3 separate regions of the Homo sapiens genome follow, and all the other regions are linked to region 1. Evidence: fine-mapped expression QTL. A gene starts in region 1. Each other region holds a variant in brackets. All regions are shown on one strand. Distances are from middle to middle.

Evidence for each region.
Region 2: its variant is fine-mapped to the expression of SEMA6C in prefrontal cortex (GTEx, PIP 0.94).
Region 3: its variant is fine-mapped to the expression of SEMA6C in whole blood (TOPMed, PIP 0.98).

What each region holds. Positions count from the first base shown.
Region 1 is chr1:151,144,650-151,152,609 of GRCh38, reverse strand. It overlaps SEMA6C (semaphorin 6C), which reads left to right and starts at 5,979. Exons shown (of 19, transcript NM_030913.6): 1 at 5,979-6,177. It also overlaps a transcript of LYSMD1 not described here. RefSeq lists silencers at 5,502-5,561, 5,772-6,231.
Region 2 is chr1:151,073,473-151,081,432 of GRCh38, reverse strand. The region is part of intron 1 of GABPB2 (GA binding protein transcription factor subunit beta 2); the gene reads right to left. Among named protein-coding and RNA genes, the nearest start is that of GABPB2, 6.7 kb to the right of the region's middle. The variant G/A (reference allele first, on the strand shown) is at 3,831.
Region 3 is chr1:151,120,358-151,128,317 of GRCh38, reverse strand. GABPB2 (GA binding protein transcription factor subunit beta 2) reads right to left here. Exons shown (of 9, transcript NM_144618.3): 9 at 2,776-7,960. Among named protein-coding and RNA genes, the nearest start is that of SEMA6C, 22 kb to the left of the region's middle. The variant CTAAA/A (reference allele first, on the strand shown) is at 3,291.

The DNA of each region.
Region 1 (7,960 bases):
TCCTGCCTCAGCCTCCCAAGTAGCTGGGATTACAGGCGCGCACCCCCACGCCCGGCTAATTTTTGTATTTTTAGTAGAGACGGGGTTTCACTATGTTGGCCAGGCTGGTCTTGAACTCCTGACCTCATGATTCGCCCAGCTCGGCCTCCCGAAGTGCTGGGATTACAGGTGTGAACCACCGTGCCTGTCCTATTTTTATTTATTTACTTTTTTGAGATGGAGTCTCACTCTGTCGCCCAGGCTGGAGTGCAGTGGCACGATCTCGGCTCACTGCAACCTCTGCCTCCCAGGTTCAAGCTATTCTCCTGCCTCAGCCTCCTGAGTAGCTGGGATTACAGGCGCGCGCTACCACGCCCAGCTAATTTTTTGTATTTTTAATCGACACGGGGTTTCACCATGTTAGCCAGGATGGTCTCGATCTCCTGACCTCATGATTCGCCTGCCTTGGCCTCCCAAAATGCTGGGATTACAGAAATGAGCCACCATACCTGGCTTGTTTTTTTTTTGTTTTTGTTTTTTGTTGTTGTTGTTGTTTTTCCTCTGAGCCATAGGATGTTTGTTTGTTTTTAATCTTTGATGCATTTATTTCTTCCTCTACTTACTGTATGCCAGGCATTACAATTAAGTGCTGGGGATAAAAAGATAAAAGACAAGCTTCCTGTCTTTTTTTTTTTTTTTTTAAGATGGAGTTTCGCTCTTGTTGCTCAGGCCAGAGTGCAATGGCGCGATCTTGCCTCATGGCAACCTCCACCTCCCGGGTTCAAGTGATTCTCCTGCCTCAGCCTCCTGAGTAGCTGGGACTACAGGCGCCCGCCACCATGCCCGGCTAATTTTGTATTTTTAGTAGAGACGGGGTTTCTCTATGTCGGTCAGGCTGGTCTTGAACTCCCAACCTTAGGTGATCTGCCCACCTTAGCCTCCCAAAGTGCTGGGATTATAGGTGTGAGCCACTGCGCCTGGCTACTTCCTGTCTTTAGACTAAGTGGTAAACATGAAAAATCCAAATGGAAGTATCCAATAAGCAATTGTATACATGAGTCTAGAACTCAGGAGAAAGACCTGAGTTGAACACCTAGATTTTATGGTAAGCAACATATAAACAGTTTATTGTGGCCGGGCGCAGTGGCTCACACCTGTAATCCCAGCACTTTGGGAGGCCCAGGCGGGCGGATCATGAGGTCAGAAGATCGAGACCATCCTGGCTAACACGGTGAAACCCTGTGTCTACTGAAAATACAAAAAAAAAAAAAAAATTAGCTGGGCATGGTGGCAGGTGCCTGTAGTCCCAGCTACTCTGGAGGCTGAGGCAGGAGAATGGTGTGAACCCGGGAGGCGGAACTTGCAGTGAGCCGAGTGAGCCACTGCACTCTAGCCTAGGTGACAGAGGGAGACTCATCTCAAAACAAAACAAAACAAAACAGTTTATTGTAACTGTTGGTTTTGTAACTGTTCTCATTGTCGGATTATCTTGACCAATGAGAATGGGTAGAGAAGAAAGAGGTGGCTAAGGACATGACCATAGGGAACACCAGCATTTAGAGAGGTCAGAGAAGGCTAAGAAAGGTCATATTAGGCTGGGTGTGGTGGCTCACACCTGTAATCCCAACACTTTGGAGGCTGAGGTGGGCAGATCGCTTGAGGTCAGGAGTTCGAGACCAGCCTGGCCAACATGGCGAAACCCTGTCTCTACTAAAAATATAAAAATTAGCTGGGCGTGGTGGTGGGCGCCTGTAATCCCAGCTACTCGGGAGGCTGAGATGGAGAAGCGCTTGAACCCAGGAGGTGGAGGTTGCAGTGAGTGAGCCAAGATTATGCTACTGCACTCCAGCCTGGGGCGACAGAGTGAGTCTCTGTCTCAAAAAAAAAAAAAAAAGAAAAGAAAAGAAAAGAAAAGCCATATTAATAGAAGTGAAACTATCCATTCATTAAAAATACATATTTATTAAGCCCCTAGTCTTTGTTAAGAGAAAGAGGGACCTCAGGAGCCAAAAGAAGAAAGCATTTCAAGGAGGGGGGAGTCAACAGGTCAAATGGCACAGAGAGGGCAAAAGGATAAAGACTGAAGAGTTGTTCATTGAATGTGACCAGGAGGTCGTTGGTGGCCTTAATGAGAGCAATCTCAGTGGACTGATGGGGACAAAAACTAAAATGATTGAGAATGAGAATCATGAAAATGGATATAGCAAGTATAGGTAACTCTAGAAGCTTAGTTATGAAGGGAAGAGAAATCGAGTGATGACTGGGTGCAGACAAGGATCAAGAGAAAGTTTGGAATGTTTTCCTTTTAATCATGGGAATTACTTGAGCATGTGTATATGCTAAGGGGAAAATATCAGTAGAAAAGGACAGGTTAAGACTGGGAATGGTGGCTGACGCCGGTAATCCCAGCAGTTCGAGAGGCCGAGGCAGGAGAATCACTTGAGCCTAGGAGTTCAAGACCAGCCTGGGCAACACAATGAGACTCTGCCTCTATTTTTTTTTTAAGTTAATACTTTCTGTGTGCAGGCACTATGCTACAAGGAAAGGATACAGTGTTGAGCAAGATAGACAACCAGGGACTGCATACAACTTACAGTAAAGTCATAGGTGAACCTTCGACAGGTGATACGGATGGCATTCACTAGGATGAGAGAGACATGATGCAGGTAAGTATATCTGTAGGGAGCAAAAAGTTGGTGGAATTCTCACTTTATTATCTCTGTTTTCTCTGAAGACGGATGAGGGTTTTCCTGAGATGAACAAGGAAATGGTAAGGAAAGGAACTTGCAAAAAAAGGAGGAAGTTTGAAATATCTCCCTGGGGATTGGAAGAGAGTGCTTTTCCAATCCAATCTGTGGGACTGTGTGATTTCCTTTTTTTGAGATGGAGTCTCGCTCTGTTGCCCAGGCTGGAGTGCAGTGGTGCGATCTCGGCTCACTGCAAGCTCCGCCTCCTGGGTTCAAGCAATTCTCCTGCCTCAGCCTCCCCAGTAGTTGGGACTACAGGCGCACACCGCCACGCCCGGCTAATTCTTTTTATTTTAGTAGAGACGGGGTTTCACTGTTGTTGCCCAGGCTGGTCTCGAACTCCTGAGCTCAGGCAATCCACCCGCCTCAGCCTCCCAAAGTGCTAGGATTACAGGCCTGAGTCACTGCGCCCGGCCAGGACTGTGTGATTTTCTTCAAAACACTAAGGGAGTAGGAAGAGAGGTTTTTTATTTTTATTTTTATTTTTTTAAGAGTCTCCCTCTGTGTCACCCAGGCTGGAGTGCAGTGGCACGATCTTGGCTCACTGCAATCTCCTGTCACCTGAGTTCAAGCAATTCCCCTGCCTCAGCCTCCTGAGTAGCTGGGATTGCAGGTGCCCATCACCACACCCGGCTAATTTTTTTTTGTATTTTTAGCAGAGCTGGAGTTTCTCCATGTTGGCCAGGCTGGTCTCAGAACTCCTGACCTCAGGTGATCTGCCCACTTCGGCCTCCCAAAGTGCTGGGATTACAGGGGTGAGCCACCTCGCCCAGCCAAGAGAGTCATTTTGATTTGTCCTTCAAAATAGCTCTCAGATTCATGTATTTCTTTCTAAATCTGTTCCCATCACCCTTGTCTGATTGTCCCTCTCCCCTCACCTTTAAACCTTGTTTACTTGCTAGTAGGTCTCTGTCTTCTTGCTTAAAAAAATAAAAAAATACAAGTTGCACCCTTTTTCAAGAATTTAAAATGACGTCCTACTCCTGTCAGATGATTTTAACCAGCTCACCTAGTCATTCCAGGCCTTCTGTAATTTGTCTTCCCCTTTTCCCTCCCCTTGCTCCTAACTAGTGCCTTTCCCACACACCAGCCTCACAGGACCTTTTTTTTATCCATGCTGCAGGCTCCTTGCTAACCAAGTAAAAGCTTTTGCTGAAGCTGTGTCCCTCGGGAACATTTTCTTCTTTTGCACCAAGCCAACTCCCACCAAAGTTTTCCTGTCCTTCATGATAAAATGTATCCAGCATCTTTCTGTGCAGTCTTCGGAGAATATTTATTGTCTTCTTTGCACATTTGGAAATTTATGTTCAATGTAGCTTTTCTTTTGAGACTTGGTGTTGTCTTTTTAATAGTTTAGTACTATTAAATATTTAATATTTAGTACTGTCTTTTTAATAGTTTAGACTTTTTAATAGTTTAGTATGTGCAAATCTTATTTTAATTCAAATATATTATCATTTTCTTAAAGTCTGGAACCACAACCCACAGTGGATTGTGTAGTAGATTGTGTCTCAAGTAAGTGTTTAATACTTACTGGATTGAACTGAGATTTGAGCTGGGTCCTAAAACTTTAAATGAATTACACCTTAATCCCCACTCACTAATCTATTCCATAAGCATGTATCTGAGTACCTAAACCCTGTGCTAGGAGCTGAGGAGATTTCTTTTAACCTCTCAGTGCCTCTGTATTTTGAGGTGTCTTTCTCTGAAAATTTCTTTCCAGCCTTTAAAACAACCCCAACTGTCTGACAGTTTGTTGAATTGCCTTGGACCCAAGATCCCTCGGCCGTTAATTCTGTGTAGATATTGTCCCTGTTTATCTTCTTCTATTTTTTTTAGATCTGACTTTACTGAGTTACTGTTCATCTTACTGGTTCACCTGGCCTTAAATCTGTCTCTCTGTCTCTCTCTTTCTCTGTATGTGCGTGTGCACATGTGTGTGTATGTTTAGGTCTCTTGTGTACTCGCTGTGGGGCTTAGCCTAGTTGTTGATACTCCCCTCCCTGATCACAGTCCAGTTAAGGCTGGCCTAAAGTGGCAAACCCCTTCCCCCTCCTTTCCTCTAGTCCAGAGTCCAAGATGTGGGTAGAAGTGTTCAGTCAGATAAAACTATCTGAGAATGCCAGTGTCTCCCAGGCCACCCACTTTCCTGGAGAATTTTGAGAATGTCTTTTGTCCCAGCCCCACATAGAGAAGAATCCTACCAGGCAATACCAAGGTACCAAGCAATCCTGTCTGTAGTAGTTTATTCTTCCTCCTCACTGACATTCCCAGGGGCTTTATGAAGGGTGGGGAGGGAGAAGGGGCAGTTTTGCTGTTTGGAGGGATGTCACGGTCCTCTGAGGAAAGGTGGGACGTATGTCTGTGGGGCAGGAAGGCTGTGTGGGTTACTTTATCAAGTCTTAGCGTTGCTACTCTTTGTGCCTTTCTCTGAGTCAGTTAGTCTTGATTTCCACATCTGTTTTGGCTTCAGCCTCTCTCACCTGCCCTCTTCCATTACCCAACAGCCTGACTGCTAGCTAGTTCTTGCCATAGTGGCCCAAACTCATGCTGCTTTGTAGAGGTGGGAGGGGAGGAGATCATGGAAACAAGGGAAACCTCCTGCTGACACCTTCCTTTCCTTTCCCAGGCCTCCAGCCCCCACGCGCATGCTAGGCCTCCTTATCCGGGTCAGGACGAACCAGAGGAGGCCTACGGGGAGAAATAAGGAGACAGAGGGACAACGCATAGAGAGGAGCAACAGAGAGTTGGGGGCAGAGTCAGGGAGATGCGGGATGCGCCCTCGGGAGCAAGGTCGCCCAAGCCGTATAGGAGGGGAAGGGAGGACGGATCGCGCAGGCTCTGACAGCCCAGCCCAGCCCCGCGAGGCTCCCAGGTTTCCTGTCTGTTTCTCCTCCCAGCTCCTCTTCCTCTCTTGGGAAATTTCTCCCCAGAGCCTCTCCTGTGCCAGCCTGTCTCTGCTTCTGTATGTATTTCTTCCTCTGCCCGGTGTCGGCGACTGTCCGTGGGTCTCTCCATCTCGCGTCTGTCTCTGGTCTCCAGTTCAGCCTCCCGGCCTGGCCCTCTGGGTGGACGGTGCTCCTGGCGCCCCTCCCCGGGCAGCACTATTGGCGGAGAGGTGACGAGAAGGCGGTGTCTAGCCGCCCTCCGAGGGCGGGATTAGTCGCGGCGACCCAAAGGCGGGCAGGAGGTGGGCCCGGCTGGGAGGCGGGCGGGGCCACTGGGGCCGAGCCCAGAGCCCCGGGCGGTCGCATTGTTTTCCTCCGCGGATCCGCGGCTGGACTTGGACCCAGGGCTCTCCCGACAGCGCCCTGGAACCCAAATTCAAGCACCATCCAATTCGGACGCTCATCGCATCTCGCCTGAGCACAACCACGGATTGCGAACTCAGCGCAGCGCGTGGCCGCTGGCCGCCCGCGGCGATCTCGATCCCGCTGACCCGAATCCTGGAGCAAGTACCCCGGGCAGGGAAGGGGCTGCGGGGAGGCGGGGAGGGAGCAGGAGGGCGCGGCCGGCGGGGGGCAAGCTTCTGAAGCGCTAGGGGACCAGGGAGGTGTCGGCGCCCGGTGTGCCTGGCTGACGGAGAGGGTCAACGAAATTGGGGTGCAGGGAGGAAGGAGGGACAGTGGCCGAGCCCCGTAACTGTACTGGTGAGAGCAGAGTCTGGGCACCTCGTTCAATTGGGCTTTCGTCGAGTCGCATCCCGCTGGACTGGGAAGCGCGAAAAGGGATTATTTGAGGCGCGCTCCGTAGAGAGCGTGGAAAACCTGGCCCCTTGCTTTCCCAGCAAGGAAACTAGGGCTCCGAGACCCACGGAGAACTAGACCCTCCTGACGCCCCTGAAGGGATGGGAAGAGGGACGCATCGTTCCGGACTTTGTGTCACGGGTGCTCCTCTGTCCTTGTGCAAGCCGGAATCTGAGCACCCTCTGAAGGGTTGGCTCGTGCAAAGAGGCGGCGAATGGGGCCCTCGAGCAACATCGGTCCCAGCGCCTATCTCCTTCCTTCAGCCCGCTCGGCCCGGGGCTTTGTTAGACTGAGGTCTCCCAAGGAGGACATCCGAGCTGGCAACTGCCTCCTGAGCCCACGGTCCCCACTGAGCGCCGGCCTCAGGCCCGCCCTCGTCGGTTCTCAGCCTCTGGCCCTGTTTCCCTGGCCTGGGAGACCCGCCTCCGCTCCCCAACCCCCGCTCCTATCCCCTCTTCGTCTGCGCCTGCAGGCCCCTCCAGCCCCTCCTCTCGCTAACGTGGCTCTGGGACCCGGTCCCGGCCCAGACTCTGCTACCGGCCCCTCCTCGGAGCCCCGGATCCGGTGAGGGGGAGACAGGTCGAGCCCCTGGCCCTAGGCCCACCTCTTTTCGAGGCTTTAGACACCTGGATTGTCCTGGTTGGGGGTTGGGTGGGAAGGAGGGTAGGTGCTGAGTGTGGGGCTAAGAGCTAAGAGTGGGGGAAATGGCTTGGAGAAAGGAAAGCTCCGGTTCCACAGGCTCCTTGGCGCGACCCTGCTCCCTCTGAGGAAGGTGGACTGGGGCGGGCGACCAGCCCAAAGGCTTCCTGCTATTGTCCCCAGCCCAGTCTCCCCTTCTCCATCCCTTCCACAGCTCTCCTAGACTCTGGCTGTGACCCCAGCCATTCCCCAGAGGTGGCTTCGGGGCCAGGAGAGAGAAGGGCTGTTTCCTCTTCCCAGCAACGGGAGGATCTGGAAAGGGGAGAGTCGGCCAGGTCTCTCCCATGTGCTTCAGATGGGGTGTGTGAAGCAGCTCGGATTCTTCCAGGGCAGAGTGATCTTTTCTCCAGGCCAGGAGTTGAGGAGCTGACCAGATGCTGCTTCCCAGAAACAGCTACAAGAAGCCCTCTTAAAGGTGTATCATAGTTGAGTCTAGAAGGCCAATGCAAAGGCCAGCCAAGTGTTTGTAGAGGCTGGACTAATCCAGCCTAAAGTGGGGTGTGAGTGTGTGTGTGTGTAGACTGAGTGGAAGGGAGGCACAGCCTGCTCTCTCAGGGAGGAAGGAAAGGGTTGAGGGTGCTTGCTATCAGATCATTTTGCCTGGAAATGAAGAGCATGTAAATGAGATGCAAATTAGCCTCTATTGTCCCTAGCTAAGGCGCTTTTGCTAAGAAGGCTGTTGGATTCTGAGGGCCTTAACATGGGAGTGGTCGCCATGCCCCACAAACTCTCCCAGTGACCCCCTTTGCCAAGGCTAGCCCTGTAGTTCTAGCAGTTTCTAGAAAGGGG
Region 2 (7,960 bases), 71 kb after region 1:
ACTGCAACCTCCGCCTCCAGTGTTTAAGTGATTCTTGTGCCTCAGCCTCCCAAGTAGCTGGCATTACAGGTGTGCACCACCATGCCTGGCTAATTTTTCTATGTTTAGTAGAGACGGGGTTTCACCATGTTGTCCAGGCTGGTCTCAAACTCCTGAACTCAAGTGATCCGCTGGCCTCAGCCTCCCAAAGTGCTGGGATTATAGGCATGAGCCACCACACCAGGCCTGAAGATATATTTTTTATAAAAATGTTTTATGTTGGCCGGGTGTGGTGGCTCATGCCTGTAATCCCAGCACTTTGGGAGGCCGAGACGGGCGGATGACGAAGTCAGGAGACCGAGACCATCCTGGCTAACATGGTGAAACCCCGTCACTACTAAAAATACAAAAAAATTAGCTGGGCGTGGTGGTGGGCCCGTGTAGTCCCAGCTACTCGGGAGGCTGAGGCAAGAGAATGGCGTGAACCCGGGAGGCAGAGGTTGCAGTGAGCCGAGATTGAGCCACTGCACTCCAGCCTGGGGGACAGAGCGAGACTCCGTCTCAAAAAAAAAACCTTTCTTTTTTATTTTTTTTTTGTGAGACATAGTCTTCCTCTATTACCCAGGCTGGAGTGCAGTGGCGCAATCTCGGCTCACTGCAACCTCCAACCTCCACCTCCTGGGTTCAAGTGATTCTTGTGTTTCAGTCTCCCGAGTAGCTGGGATTAGAGGTGCCACGCCACCATGCCCAGCTAATACTTGTATTTTTAGTAGAGATGGGGTTTCACCATCTTGGCCAGGCTGGTCTTGAACTCCTGACCTCAAGTGATCTGCTTGTCTTGGCCTCCCAAAGTGATGGGATTACAGGCGTGAGCCACTGTACCTGGCCTAAACCCTTTTTATTTTATTTATTTATTTATTTATTTATTTATTTATTTATTTAGAGATGGAGTTTTGCTCTTGTTGCCCAGGCTGGAGTGCAGTGGAATGATCTCAGTTCACTGCAACCTCTGCCTCCTGGGTTGAAGCGATTCTCCTGCCTCAGCCTCCCGAGTACCTGGGATTACAGGCATGTGCCACCATGCCCAGCTAATATTGTATTTTTAGTAGAGACAGGGTTTCTCCATGTTTGTCAGGCTGGTCTTGAACTCCTGACCTCAGGTGATTTGCCCAGCTTGGCCTGCCCACCACCATACCCAGCTAATTATTGTTTTTTTTTTTTTTTTTTTTTTTTTTTTTGAGATGGAGTTTGGCTCTTGTTGCCCAGGCTGGAGTGCAATGGCATGATCTTGGCTCACCGCAACCTCTGCCTCCAAAGTTCAAGCGATTCTCCTACCTCAGCCTCCCAAGTAGCTAGGAATACAGGCGTGTGCCACCACGCTTGGCTAATTTTTGTATTTTTAGTAGAGATGGGGTTTCACCACCTTGGCCAGGCTGGTCTTGAACTCCTGACCTCGCGATCCACCAGCCTCAGCCTCCCAAAGTGCTGGGATTACAGGCATGAGCCACTGTGCCCGGCAATGTTTTATTATTATTATTGTTATTATTTTGTGTGTGTGTGTGACAGAGTTTTGCTCGTTACGCAGGCTAGAGTGCAATGGTGCAATCTCAGCTCACTGCAATCTCCGCCTCCTAGGTTCAAGCGATTCTCCTGCCTCAGCCTCCCGAGTAGCTGGTATTACAGGCATGTGTCACCATGCCCAGCTAATTTTGTATTCTTAGTACAGACAGGGTTTCACCATGTTGGTCAGCCCCTCGAACTCCTGACCTCAGGTGATTCGCTGCCTCGGCCTCCCAAAGTGCTGGGATACAGGCCTGAGCCACTGCGCCCGGTCGCAAAATGTTTCTGAGCAGTGTTTTATACTGTAGTCTGCTTTCATATCTACATTTATCGTATTTATATATTTATTTACTGAGACAGGGTCTCACTCTGTTTCCCAGGCTGGAGTGCAGTGGCATAATCATGGCTCACTGCAACCTCTGCCTCCTGGATTCAAGCGATTCTCTTGCCTCGCCTCCTGAGTAGCTGGGATTACAGGCACCTACTACCACGCCTGGCTAATTTATGCATTTTTAGTAGAGGCAGTGTTTCACCAGGTTAGGCCAGGCTGGTCTTGAACCCCTGACCTCAAGTAACCCGCCAGCCTCAGCCTCCCAAAGTGCTGGGATTACAGGCGTGAGCCACTGCACCTGGCCTATCACTCTTCTTTAATCATCTTTCTGTCACATATCAATACTACTAAATGACAACCAACCCAAATCTGTCATCCCATTCTTTCAACAAGCCATGATTTTAAAGCCCTATTTCTTACTATATAGAGATATAATTAAACTTTGGGATTAGAATGTAAATAGGGTGCTATATTTACCTCCTAATATAAGAAAGATATAGAAATGCGTTCTTCAAGGCTATTTTCTCCTCCTATCCTCAGTTACTCTTTTGAGTTAACCTGAAGCATCCATCTTAAGAAAAAGTAAAATGTAGCCAGGCACAGTGGCTCACGACTGTAATCCCAGCACTTTGGGAGGCAGAGGCAGGCGGGTCACTTGAGGGCAGGAGTTGGAGACCAGCCTGGCCAACATGGTGAAATCCCGCCCCTACTAAAATACAAAATTTTACTACCCCGCCTGTACTAAAAATACAAAAATTAGCCAGGTGTGGTGGTGCACGCCTGTACTCCCAGCTACTCAGGAGGCTGAGGCAGGAGAATCACTTGAACCTGGGAGGCAGAGGTTGCAGTGAGCCAAGATTGTGCCACTGCCCTCCAGCCTGGGTAACAGAGCGAGACTGTCTCAAACAAACAAACAAACAAAAACAAAAAAAGAAAAAGTAAAATGAATTTTTTTTTCTATTTTTTTTTTGAGACGGAGTCTTGCTCTGTGGCCCAGGCTAGAGTGCAGTGGCGCGATCTCGGCTCACTGCAAGCTCCGTCTCCCGGATTCATGCCATTCTCCTGCCTCAGCCTCCTGAGTGGCTGGGACTACAGGCACCCGCCACCATGCCCGGCTAATTTTTTGGATTTTTAGTAGAAGCACGGTTTCACCGTGTTAGCCAGGATGGGCTCGATCTCCTGAACTCGTGATCCGCCCGCCTTGGCCTCCCAAAGTGCTGGGATTACAGGCGTGAGCCACCGCGCCCAGTGTAAAATGAATTTTTATTCTTACTCTTTTTTTTTTTTTTTCGAGTTGAAGTCTCACTCTGTCTCACCCAGGCTGGAGTGCAGTGGTGTGATCTCGGCTCACTGCAGCCTCCACCTCTCAGGTTCAAGCAATTCTCCTGTCTCAGCCTCCTGAGTAGCTCGGACTACAGGCTCGTGCCACCACAACTGGATAATTTTGTATTTTTAGTAGAGACAGGATTTCACCATGTTGGTCAGGCGAGGCTTGAACTCCTGACTTCAGGGGATCCACCTGCCTCAGCCTCCCAAAGTGCTGGGATTACAGGCGTGAGCCACCGTGCCCGGCCTTTATTTTTATTATTCTAAAGAAAATTATTATTTTTTGAGACTGAGTCTTGCTCTGTTGCCCAGGCTGGAGTGCAATGGTGTGATCTTGGCTCACTGCACCCTCAGCCTCCTGGGTTCAAGCGATTCTCCTGTCTCAGCCTTCTGAATAGCTAGGATTAGGTGGCACGTGCCACCATGCCCGGCTAATTTTTGTATTTTTAGTAGAGACAGGGTTTCACCATGTTGGTCAGGCTGGTCTTGAACTCCTGACCTTGTGATCCACCTGCCTCGGTTTCCCAAAGTGCTGGGATTACAGGCGTGAGCCACTGCGCCTGGCCTCTCTTTTTTTTTTAAAGCTGAGCCCAGCCATGGGTTTATACCCTCAAATACCTATGAGTGGCCGGGC[G/A]CGGCGGATCACAAGGTCAAGAGAACAAGACCATTCTGGCCAACATGGTGAAACCCTGTGTCTACTAAAAATACAAAAATTAGCTGGGCGTGGTGTTGCATGCCTGTAGTCCCAGCTACTCAGGAGGCTGAGGCAGAAGAATCACTTGAATCCGGGAGGTAGAGGCTGCAGTGAGCCGAGATTGCGCCACTGCACTCCAGCCTGGTGAGAGAGTGAGACTCCATCTCAAAAAAAAAAAAAAAAAAACCTATGAGTTGGATAAATTCCTCCCCTCCTGAGGTCCCAGGATAATGTGGGGCTCCTGGGCCTGTCAGAAAGTCAGAAAGTGACACTCTTTACTTACCACAGATCAGGAACCCTGTACAGGGACTTTAGACAAGGTATGAGGCCAGTTTTCCCAACGGGCTTTAATTGGCTTTGTAAGTCTTATGTGAGATTCCTTTTACGGAACAAAGTTCTTTCAAAGCCAATTTAAAAAGCCTATGTGAAAAATCATTATTCTTGCTGCACTTTATACAAATAATCAGACCAAGTGTAATCCCAGCACTTTGGGAGGCCCAGGAGGGCGGATCACGAGGTCAGGAGATTGAGACCATCCTGGCTAACACAGTGAAACCCCGTCTCTACTAAAAATACAAAAAATTAGCCGGGTGTGGTGGCAGGCACCTGTAGTCCCAGCTACTCGGGAGGCTGAGGCAGGAGAATGGCATGAACCCAGGAGGTGGAGCTTGCAGTGAGCCGAGATTGCGCCACTGCACTCCAGCCTGGGCGACAGAGTGAGACTCCATCTCAAAAAAAAAAAAAAAAATCAGACCAAGTTTAATAAAGCCAATCTATTTTACCATGATTTGCCTTTAGTAAAAATGGGAGACTGGCAAGGCACAGTGGCTCACACCTGTAATCCCAGCACTTTGGGAGGCTGAGGCGGGTGGATCACCTGAGGTCAGGTGTTCGAGACCAGCCTGGCCAACATGGTGAAAGCCCGTTTCTACTAAAAATACAAAAATTAGCCGGACGTGGTGGCATATGCCTGTAATCCCAGCTACTCCGGAGGCTGATGCAGGAGAATTGCTTGAACCCAGGAGGCAGAGCTTGCAGTGAACCAAGATTGTGCCACTGCACTCCAGCCTAGGTGACTGAATAAGACTCTGTCTCAAAAAATAAAAAAAATAAAAATTCTAGTCTCATCAGTTGTTTTTAAGTTTTTTTCTGCAACTTAGATTAACTCTGCTTATTCCTGTGAACCAACCAGTGATCTCTGGCTGCTGCTCACAAGAAACAAAAGGAATGGGTAATGTAAAAATCTGGATCAATATTCTAATTCTGGGCACATACTGGAATCAGCTAGTAACCCCAAATCAGCTTGGTTCCAACAGTTGCCCAGTTCATGGAAAACCTTCTTATTTAATTTACTTGGGATAGTTTTGCTTATTTTGCTTTACTGTTGAGGAGTATATTGCTGTTGTACTCTTTGTGTAGGAATGCAGGATAAGCTTACTGAATGTTTTCTTAAACTGAACACCTTTTAATCTTCCAGATATCACCTTTTGTTGGAGTTATGAATAGCTCTCACCATACTGATGCTTTCTGACTGAGCTCCTCTCTGAACCCTGAATACAAGAGACCCTAAGAGTCAGGCAGGAATATCATCGCCCCTATTCACCCTGAAAAAGTTACAGAAGATGGATCTTTATTTCTTTGTAACCCCTAGGATTAAGGGTTCTCTAATAAAAGGGATGGGAGAAATGTCAGAGGTGTTTGAACCAGAGCAACTCCATCTTGCATAGGAGTTGGGTGAAATAAGGCTGAGACCTACTGGGCTGCATTCCCATTAAGGCATTCTTTTTTTGTTTTGTTTTGTGTTTTTTTGGGTTTTTTTGGGGGGGGTTTTTTTGAGATGAAGTCTCGCTCTGTTGCCTAGGCTGGAGTCCAGTGGTGCAGTCTCAGCTCGCTGCAACTTCCGCCTCCCAGGTTGTAGCGATTCTCCTGTCCCAGTCTCCCACCTGGCTAAATTTTTTTTTTTTTTTTTTTTTTTTTTTGAGACAAAGTCTCGCTCTGTCGCCCAGGCTAGAGTGCAGTGGCACAATCTCGGCTCACTGCAAGCTCCGCCTCTTGGGTTCACGCCATTCTCCTGCCTCGGCCTCCCGAGTAGCTGGGACTACAGGCGCCCGCCACCATGCCCGGCTAATTTTTTGTATTTTTAGTAGAGATGGGGTTTCACCATGTTAGCCAGGATGGTCTCGATCTCCTGACCTCGTGATCTGCCCTCCTGGGCCTCCCAAAGTGCTGGGATTACAGGCATGAGCCACCGTGCCCGGCCAATTTTTTGTATTTTTAGTACAGATGGAGTTTCACCGTGTTAGCCAGGATGGTCTTGATCTCCTGACCTCTGCCCGCCTCAGCCTCCCAAAGAGCTGGGATTACAGGCATGAGCCACTGCGCCTGGCCCTTGTTTTGTTTTTTGAGACTGTCTCACTCTGTCGCCCAGACTGGAGTGCGGTGGCACGATCTCGGCTCGCCACAACCTCTGCCTCTAATGCTCAAGCAATTCTCCTGCCTCACCCTCCCGAGTAGCTGGAATTACAGGCGTGTGCCACTACTGCCTGGCTTATTTTTGTATTTTTAGTAGAGACAGGGTTTCACCATGTTGGCCAGGCTGGTCTTGAACTCCTGACCTCAAGTGATCCACCCACCTCGGCCTCCCAAAGTGGTGTGAGCCACTGTGCCCAGTCAGTTAAGGCATTCTTAGTTACAGGATGAGATAGGAGGTCAGCACGAGATACAGATCATAAAGACTTTGCTGATAAAACAGGCCATAGTAAAGAAGCTGGCTAAAACCCACCAAAAGCAAGATGGCGACAAGAGGACAAGAGTGACCTCTGGTTGTTCTCTCTGCTACACTCCCACCAGTGCCATGCCATGGCAGCTTACAAATGCCATGGCAATGTCAGGAAGTTACCCTATATGGTCTAAAAAGAGGAGGCTGCTGGGTGCGGTGGCTCACGCCTGTAATCCCAGCACTTTGGGAGGCTGAGGAGGGCGGCTCATGAGGTCAGGAGATCGAGACCATCCTGGCTAACGTGGTGAAACCCCGTCTCTACTAAAAATACAAAAAAAAAAAAAAATTAGCTGGGCATGGTGGCGGGGGCCTGCAGTCCCAGCTATTCGAGAGGCTGAGGCAGGATAATGGCGTGAACCCAGGAAGTGGAGCTTGCAGTGAGCCGTGATCACGCCACTGCACTCCAGCCTGGGCGACAGAGCGAGACTCCGTCTGGAAAAAAAAAAAAAAAAAGCGGAAGCATGTTTAGCATACAATCAAGAAATAACCAGCCGGGCGCGGTGGCTCACGCCTGTAATCCTAGCACTTTGGGAGGCTGAGGCGGGAGAATCACGAGGTCAGGAGATCGAGACCATCTTGGCTAACATGGTGAAACCCCGTCTCTACTAAAAATACAAAAAATTAGCCGGGCGCCGTGGCAGGTGACTGTAATTCCAGCTACTCAGGAGGCTGAGGCAGGAGAATGGCATGAACTAGGAAGCGGAGCTTGCAGCGAGCCGAGATAGCGCCACTGCAGTCCAGCCTGGGCGACAGAGCAAGACTCTCAAAAAAAAAAAAAAAAAAAGAAATAACCATAATAATACTGCCCATGGAGTAGCTATTCTTTTTTTCTTTACTTTCTTTTTTAGCCAGAGACTTGCTCTGTCACCAGGCTGGAGTACAGTGGCGCGATCTTGGCTCACTGCAAACTCTGCCTCCTGGGTACAAGTGATTCTCCTGCCTCAGCCTCCCAAGTAGCTGGGACTACAGATGCACGCCACCATGCCCAGCTAATTTTTGTATTTTTATTAGAGACGGGGTTTCACCATGTTGGCCAGGCTGGTCTTGAACTCCTGACCTTGTGATCTGCCCGCCTCAGCCTCCCAAAGTGCTGGGATTACGGGGATGAGCCACCGCGCCGGCCTTCCTTTACTTTCTCAAGCAACTTGCTTTCACTTAAAATAAAACAAAACAAAACAACAAAAAACAAACAAAAAACACAGCATTTTGAGGGGAACTATATGCCATTCTCCCAGTATCTTGTCCATGCTGGTTCTGGCAGGTGGTCAATACCTGCCTGGTGGCCCATCAA
Region 3 (7,960 bases), 24 kb after region 1:
TGGGACTACAGGCGCCTGCCACCACACCCAGTTAATCTTTGTGTTTTTAGTAGAGACAGGTTTTCACCATGTTAGCCAGGATGGTCTCAATTTCCTGACCTCGTGATCCGCCGGCCTTGGCCTCCCAAAGTGCTGGGATTACGGGCCACGGCACCCGGCCCTCAGTTTCTTAAATGCAAATCTGAGATGAATTAAGCTGCCCAAGGCTAGTGAATAAAATAGCATTCTGACAAAAGGGAAATCACAGAGGAAAGTACACTAATTAACTCAATGTAGAAACTGTAGTTTTAGAAAGAACAATTTTAGCCAGGGTGCCATGGCTCACGCCTATAATTCCAACAGTTTGGGAAGGTAAGGCAGGTGGATCCCTTGAGCTCAGGAGTTCAAGACCAGCCTGGGCAACATGGTGAAACCCTGTCTCTACCAAAAATACAAAAATTAGCCAGGCATGGTGGTGTGCACCTGTAGTCCCAGCTTCTCAGTAGGCTGAGGTGGAGGATTGCTTGAGACCTGGAGGTCGAAGGTCGAGGCTGCAGTGAGCCAAGATCATGCCACTGCACTCCAGCCTGGGCAAGAGTGAGACCCTGTCTTTAAAAAGAAAAAAAAAAAAGGACAATTTTTACAAGTGTGTGACTCTGCAAAGTCAACCTATTTTTACAACTATATGATGAGGATAATACTCACCTTACAAGATGGGTATTTATATGTATATGCAGAGTACCTAGCACATTGCCAGACATGTAGCAAAAGCTTAAAACATGGTGGCTATTGTTATTTATAATTTTGGGCCCTTTCCCAAACTTTCCTTTCCTTTACAGCACTACCCTTAAACTTTAGGACTGGTTATAGGAGCAGACTGCAACCCCACACTTTTGTTCAGAAGTCTCCCATAGTCTTAACTTACTCAATTACCTATCAAATGTCTTGCACAAGCCTTACACAGGTGTAGTTATCACTGGGTTGCTCCCACTTCAGCCTTCACCTGTATTTTTTACCTATTGATCTCCTTGGAGTAGAGGGTTCTTTTTTACAGAGGAAGGAAGTCTTAGGAAAGTTGCCCTAGTTCATAATTTTTCCCATTACTTAAGACTATCACCCAGCCGGGCACGGTGGCTCACACCTGTAAGCCCAGCACTTTGGGAGGCCAGTGCGGGTGGATCACCTGAGGTCAGGAGTTCAAGACCAGCCTGGCCAACATGGTGAAACCCCGTCTCTACTAAAAATACAAAAATTAGCTGAGTGTAGTGGTGCATGCCTGTAATCCCAGCTAATAGGGAAGCTGAGGCAGGAGAATCACTTGAACCTGGGAGGCAGAGGCTGCAGTGAGCCAAGATCATGCCACCGCACTCCAGCCTGGGCAACAGTGTGAGACTCTGTCTCAAAAAAAAAAAAAAAAAAAAAAGAGTATCACCCATCAGAGAACTCTAGGTTCCTATCTCTCTAGTTCCCTCCAACTTTCCCATCTTGATGATTTCTCTCACCAGGATTTAATTCAACAAGATTTTTAGTTCTTTGGTTCTTAAGGCTCCACAAGTTCCTGCTTTTTTTTCTGTCAGCACAGCCAAGACTATATATATTAATAAAGTACCTGCCAGAATTACTTTCTATTACTTGAATATGTGCACAGCATTTGCTGACTATATGTATTTACCAAAAAGAAATTATCTACATGTACCCTAGTACATGGTAGGTGTCCAATTTCCTAAATATTGACTTTGAGAACTTACTTGAGATTCCAGTCGCTGAACACAGATGCTTATATGTCCTTAGCTTTGGACAGGCTCAAAGCTAATTTTGTAAAGAAAGGTATCCTTCTTGCCAACAAAACAGCTTTTCAGAACTCTATACACTAGATAGGATACCCATCTTGCTAGTCAAATTGGTCTGTTCACCCCGGCTATCAATGGGGATTGTGCTACTATCAGACTGATCCTCCTATTTTTAAATATAAATGTGTGCTGATTTTGGACTAAGATAGCAGCAAGCACCCTATTAACCAAGAATAGCTGAGAAGCTGGCAAAGTAAATCTACTCTTTCCAAGCACTCCTGAGTCTGATGTTTTTCCCCATACGTCTCAGTATTGACTTTACTCCCACACAAGGCACATAATCATTTTCTTCAGCTACTTTTCTCCTCCCTTGGTTGTTTGCTTTTAGGGAAGGGAGTGGGGAATGAGAGAAAGAAGGAAAATGTACATTTAACAAGCTGGTCAAAAGCTCTCCTCATTCTCATTTCATTTCTTACCTCAACTTGCTCTGCCTGTCAAGAATACCAGGCTGAGAGCGGTGGATAAGGAAAAGGCAATGGCCATGCATGGGTTAGTAGATCTATACCCCTCCCCCTTCAGTTAGCTCAGTTGGACAGGGAAAATGAGCTCTGTGGTTCACCTGTCATTAGAGAATAGATACAAATTTGGCCGGGCTCGGTGGCTCACGCCTGTAATCCCAGCACTTTGGGAGGCCGAGGCGGGCGGATCACGAGGTCAGGAGATCGAGACCATCCCGGCTAAAACGGTGAAACCCCGTCTCTACTAAAAATACAAAAAAATTAGCCGGACGTAGTGGCGGGCGCCTGTAGTCCCAGCTACTTGGGAGGCTGACGCAGGAGAATGGCGTGAACCCGGGAGGCGGAGCTTGCAGTGAGCCGAGATCCCGCCACTGCACTCCAGCCTGGGCGACAGAGCGAGACTCCGTCTCAAAAAAAAAAAAAAAAAAGAGAATAGATACAAATTTTGCCCAGGAGATGAAAACAAATTCAATGACACCCTGAAATGGTCGGCTTTGACATTTTATTGAGAAACATTTTTATTTTAAATGATAGTACAAAAACTGTATATATAATATAGATCTGTATAAGTATATATACATACAAATGCTCATACACACATATACACACAAACTTGCTCATCAGAATAAAACCCTAAATAAAGAAGTATATTTAAGTTTTTCTAAAAATACGCTGTACATAAAGCTGTCAGACAACCTGAAAAACTGAGGACATTGTGAGAACAGTCTGGGCGCATCCCCCCACACACACACCTGCCGCAGTACACACACAAATGGCCTTGACAGAAGGACAGCACATGGGGCAAGGTCAGGGAGAGAGCTGCTACCATCATTGTTGCTAGAACAAGATGTCTAAAGCCAACTAGAAAGCACAGGATATAGAAGGTGACCTAGATTAACTTTCAGAAACAAACCACCTCAGAATAAACAAAAAATATGTGGTAGGGAAGGAGGGGAACGGAGAGAGAAAAGACAAGGCCCAGAGATTAGAAATGACCTACTAA[CTAAA/A]TTCGAATGCCTGGGAAAGCCTCAATGAGATAGGAACAATGGAATCACAAAAGCAGAAAAGGTAGGAGGAGGGGGAGATAGGGAATCACAATTTCCTGTCACTAACATGCCAAACTGCTACTGTAGAGTCTAGGAATGTCACCTCACCCCCTAATACTAAAGAGGCTAAAAAATAAGACAAAAATTTAAAAAGGGCAGCATCAGAGACTTAAAAAAAATTGGCATAGGAAATAATAGTACTACTCAGAAGGGGTAGTACTTCTGAGATATAGTCACCACATAAAATAGAGACAGATAAGAGCCTAGAGTGCATACAGGTGGTCATCACATATAGTCCATTCTGAAGTTCCTTTTCTAGCTATCCAGAGATGGGTTTGCACAAGGAGTAGAGAAGAGGAAGCCTTCTCTAATAAATTAGGACAAAAACTGATTCCCACTCCATATTAAACTTTCAGGAAGAGTTCAGTAAATGCATCAAATTTTCCAGCTCTGGAGGTCTGTAATGATAGGAGAGAGCCACACAAGCTTTCTTAAAATGGTCATCATCATACTGGTGAGAAAAAAAAAAAAAAAAAGAGGCTGGGCGTGGTGGCTCACACCTGTAATCCCAGCACTTTGGGAGGCCAAGGAGGGTGGATCACGAGGTCAGGAGTTCGAGACCAGCCTGGCCAATATGGTGAAATCCCGTCTGTACTAAAAATACAAAAATTAGCGCGTGCCTGTAATCCCAGCTACTTCAGAGGCTGAGGCAGAAGAATCGCTTGAACCCGGGAGACAGAGGTTGCAATGAGCCAAGATCATGCCACTGCGCTCCAGCCTGGGTGACAGAGAGAGACTCTGTTTAAAAAAAAAAAAAGAAAAGAAAAAAGAAAAAAAAATCATTTCTCAAACTGATATTTCTTTTTTTCCTTTTTCTTTCTTTTTTTTTTTTTTGTGAGCCACCGCGCCCGGCCTCTTTTTTTTTTTTTTTTTTCTCACCAGTATGATGATGCGCCACCACCCCCGGCTAATTTTTGTATTTTTAGTAGAGACTGAGTTTCACCACGCTGGCCTGGCCTCAAGTGATCCTCCCATCTCGGCCTCCCAAAGTGCTGGGATTACAGGCGTGAGCCACCATGTCTGGCCAGCAGCTTTACTTATTTTATTTTATTTTATTTTATTTTATTTTTTGAGACCGAGTCTCATTCTGTTGCCCAGGCGATCTGTTGCAGTGGGGCGATCTCAGCTCACTGCAAGCTCTGCCTCCTGGGTTCACGTCATTCTCCTGCCTCAGCCTCCCGAGTAGCTGGGACTACAGGCACCCACCACCACGCCCGGCTAATTTTTTGTATTTTTAGTAGGGCCAGGGTTTCACTGTGTTAGCCAGGATGGTCTCAATCTCCTGACCTCGTGATCCACCTGCCTTGGCCTCCCAAAGTGCTGAGGTTACAGGCGTGAGCCACTGTGCCCGGCCAGCAGCTTTATTTTAAAGTAGACAACCATCCTAAGCTCGAAGTTTCTCTTGCTCAAGCACCAATTCTGATCCATTTGTCTGTTTTTTCTTTCTTTCCTTCTTTTTTTTTTTTTTTTGAGACAGAGTCTCGCTCTATTGCCCAGGCTGGAGTGCAGTGGCACAATCTCAGCTCACTGTAAACTCCACCTTTTGGGTTCAAGCAATTCTCCTGTTTCAGCCTCCAGAGTAGCTGGGACTACAGGCGTATGCCATCATGCCCAACTAATTTTTGTATTTTGGTAGAGACAGGGTTTTGCCATGTCGGCCAGGCTGGTCTCGAACTCCTCACCTCAAGTGATCTACCCACCTCAGCCTCTCAAAGTGCTGGGATTACAGGCGTGAGCCACCGTGCCCAGCCATTTTTGTCTGCTATTTGATTCTTAATAATCCAACCTTGCCAATAAACAGTTGGAATCCTCTAACCCAGAAGATCTAAGCAATATTTCCCCAACTTCCATGACTAATCCAGAAAGATATGCAAAGTCATGAAATGGTATTGCCATTAATGTATTCAATATTTAATTTCTAACTACTTCAAAGCATCCTCACCTGCCATTCTCTCCATGGCAATACAATTGGAGATCAAATCCTATTTCCCTTATCTGGGATGCCAAGAGGACCGTTCCGAGTAAATAAAAATCAATGCCTTTTTCTTACTTATTTTCAGATACCTCCATTCTCTCCCTCTCTACCCTAGCCTCTCCTCTAACAAACTGCCCTATCTCAGAGACCCATCATAAAAAATGACTTGGCCTGTATTAGAGATTTTGGGGGTTGGGGAGGTAGGAATGATAGCTTCTGCAGAAAGAACAATAAGATCTGCTAAAGAATTCCCCCAAAAAAGTGGTGACTGTATAGTCAGAAGGGCATGTTGGATGGACATTCTCTGCCTTTAGTCAGTAGCCACCCCAGAGAGTGAGCTGGTTGGGCCTGAATATCATCTGCAGAGTTAACCTCCTTCCCCTTAATGGGCGAGGTGTGGGGGAAGAGGGATTAAAGTCAACATATGCACCGAGAACATAAATAAAAGATATCTAAAATGATACTTGGTTCCTCTATCGTTAAAGTAAGGCTCCGAAATCCCACACATAACAGCTTCTTGTTAGCACCTGGTTCCCAAAGGGACTCAGAAAAAATAAAAACATTGCAAACAGGAAAAGATTATTTGACAGCAGATAGAACAATTTCATCATCACCCTTACCTAGGCTACTCCCCCTCACATTTTCCTGTCATCCCCAACAGCCCAGAATATTCTCCAATCATCTGGGAAGTGTTAAGTACTCAGATCTGTGGAGAAAACAGATCTGTGGAGAAAACCTAGCTAAGGTGGCCAGTAGCCAAGGTTAATTTCCAAACTGATATTTTTGCCTATAAATCTCTAATAACCAATTCTGTTTGTTAAATTTGGTTTGGGGAGTTAAATTTTCAGTCTATTTTGAGACCCAAGTGATTCTGCTCCTCTGTAACACTGCAGCAAATTACTTCACTAATCAAGGTAAACAGAACCATGTTAACTGTCAGGTTTTTTCCAAATTAAAAATGCATGTTTTCCCCATGACTGCTAATTAAGAAAACCATATTCTAAACAGTCATTCGAATGTTTACTTGGCACATCTCCCTCTGGTTTCTTCTAATTTATAACAAAGCAAGCAAGTCTAGAATGATGAGGGCCCAGTTTCAAAGGCAATAACCTCTGTAACATAACCTGTTCATAACCTCTCTCTCTCCATCCATATTCCCTTTCTTTGGGAAAAACTCCATGCTGACATACAAAGAAAACCCAGCAGGTAGGTGGTCAGGCGCAGTGGCTCACGCCTATAATCCCAGCACTTTGGGAGGTCGAGACAGGTGGATCACCTGAGGTCAGGAGTTCAAGACCAGCCCGACTAACATGGAGAAACCCCATCTCTACTAAAAATACAAAATTAGCCAGGCATTGTGGCGCATGCCTGTAGTCCCAGCTACTCGGGAGGCTGAGGCAGGAGAATCACTTGAACCCAGGAGGTAGAGGTTGCGGTGAGCCAAGATCACGCCATTGCACTCCAGCCTGGGCAACAAGAGTGAAACTCCGTCTCAAAAAAAAAAAGAAAAAGAAAAAGAAAACCCAGCAGTTAAACACTTTCCAAAAGTGTCTGGGCAGAGGAAGTGTAGGCATAGTGGGAGAGAAAGGAAGAAGACAAAGTAGCCAGAATCTTTGGTTCTTTATGGCACTGACAGTTCTTATTCCCTTTGTCAACACACACTGAGCACCCTATAAGGCACAAAGCTCTGTAACAGACCCAAGCTTAAGGAAACAGAGCAATTTACTCATGCCAGATCAAAAGGAAATAAAACTAAACAACATCATCAGCATTTACCTCCGACCCCCTTTTTGTTGCACATAAGAGGATAAGATATAAGCTCCACAGAAAAGCACAATATGTCCTAAATGACACTTAGAAAATTCAACAAAGTTTTATAAAATTAGAGTCTAGGCTGTGCGCGGGGTGGCTCACGCCTGTAATCTCAGCATTTTGGGAGGCCAAGGCGGGTGGATCACCTGAGGCCAGGAGTTCCAGACCAGCCTGACCAACATAGAGAAACCCTGTCTCTACTGAATATACAAAATTAGCCGGGCGTGGTGGCGCGTGCCTGTAATCCCAGCTACTCGGGAGGCTGAGGCAGGAGAATAGCTTGAAACCGGGAGGTGGAAGTTGCGGTGAGTTGAGATCACACCATTGCACTCCAGCCTGGGCAACAAGAGCAAGACTCCGTCTCAAAAAAAAAAAAAAAAAAAAGAGAGACTGAGCTTGACATTACATAAATGTTTGGAAACAAGTTTTTCTGACAAGAGACTACCCTCCTCACTGTAATTTTATGAAATCCAGTCAGAGCAAAGTTTATATGTCAAGACCAGAGTTTCATAGCCCCTATAAGCCTTTTTCTGGCCACTTCCCAGCACTGTGGAAACACAGCCTGGATTTTGGTTTTATATATACTCCTCCCACATAAACAAGTTTTCTTTCTTTTCTATTTTTTTTTTAATTGAGTTTCACTCTTGTTGCCCAGGTTGGAGTGCAATGGTGCCATCTCGGCTCATTGCAACTGCCGCCTCCCGGGTTCAAGCGATTCTCCTGCCTCAGCCTCCTGAGTAGCTGGGATTACAGGCATGTGCCACCACACCCAGCTAATTT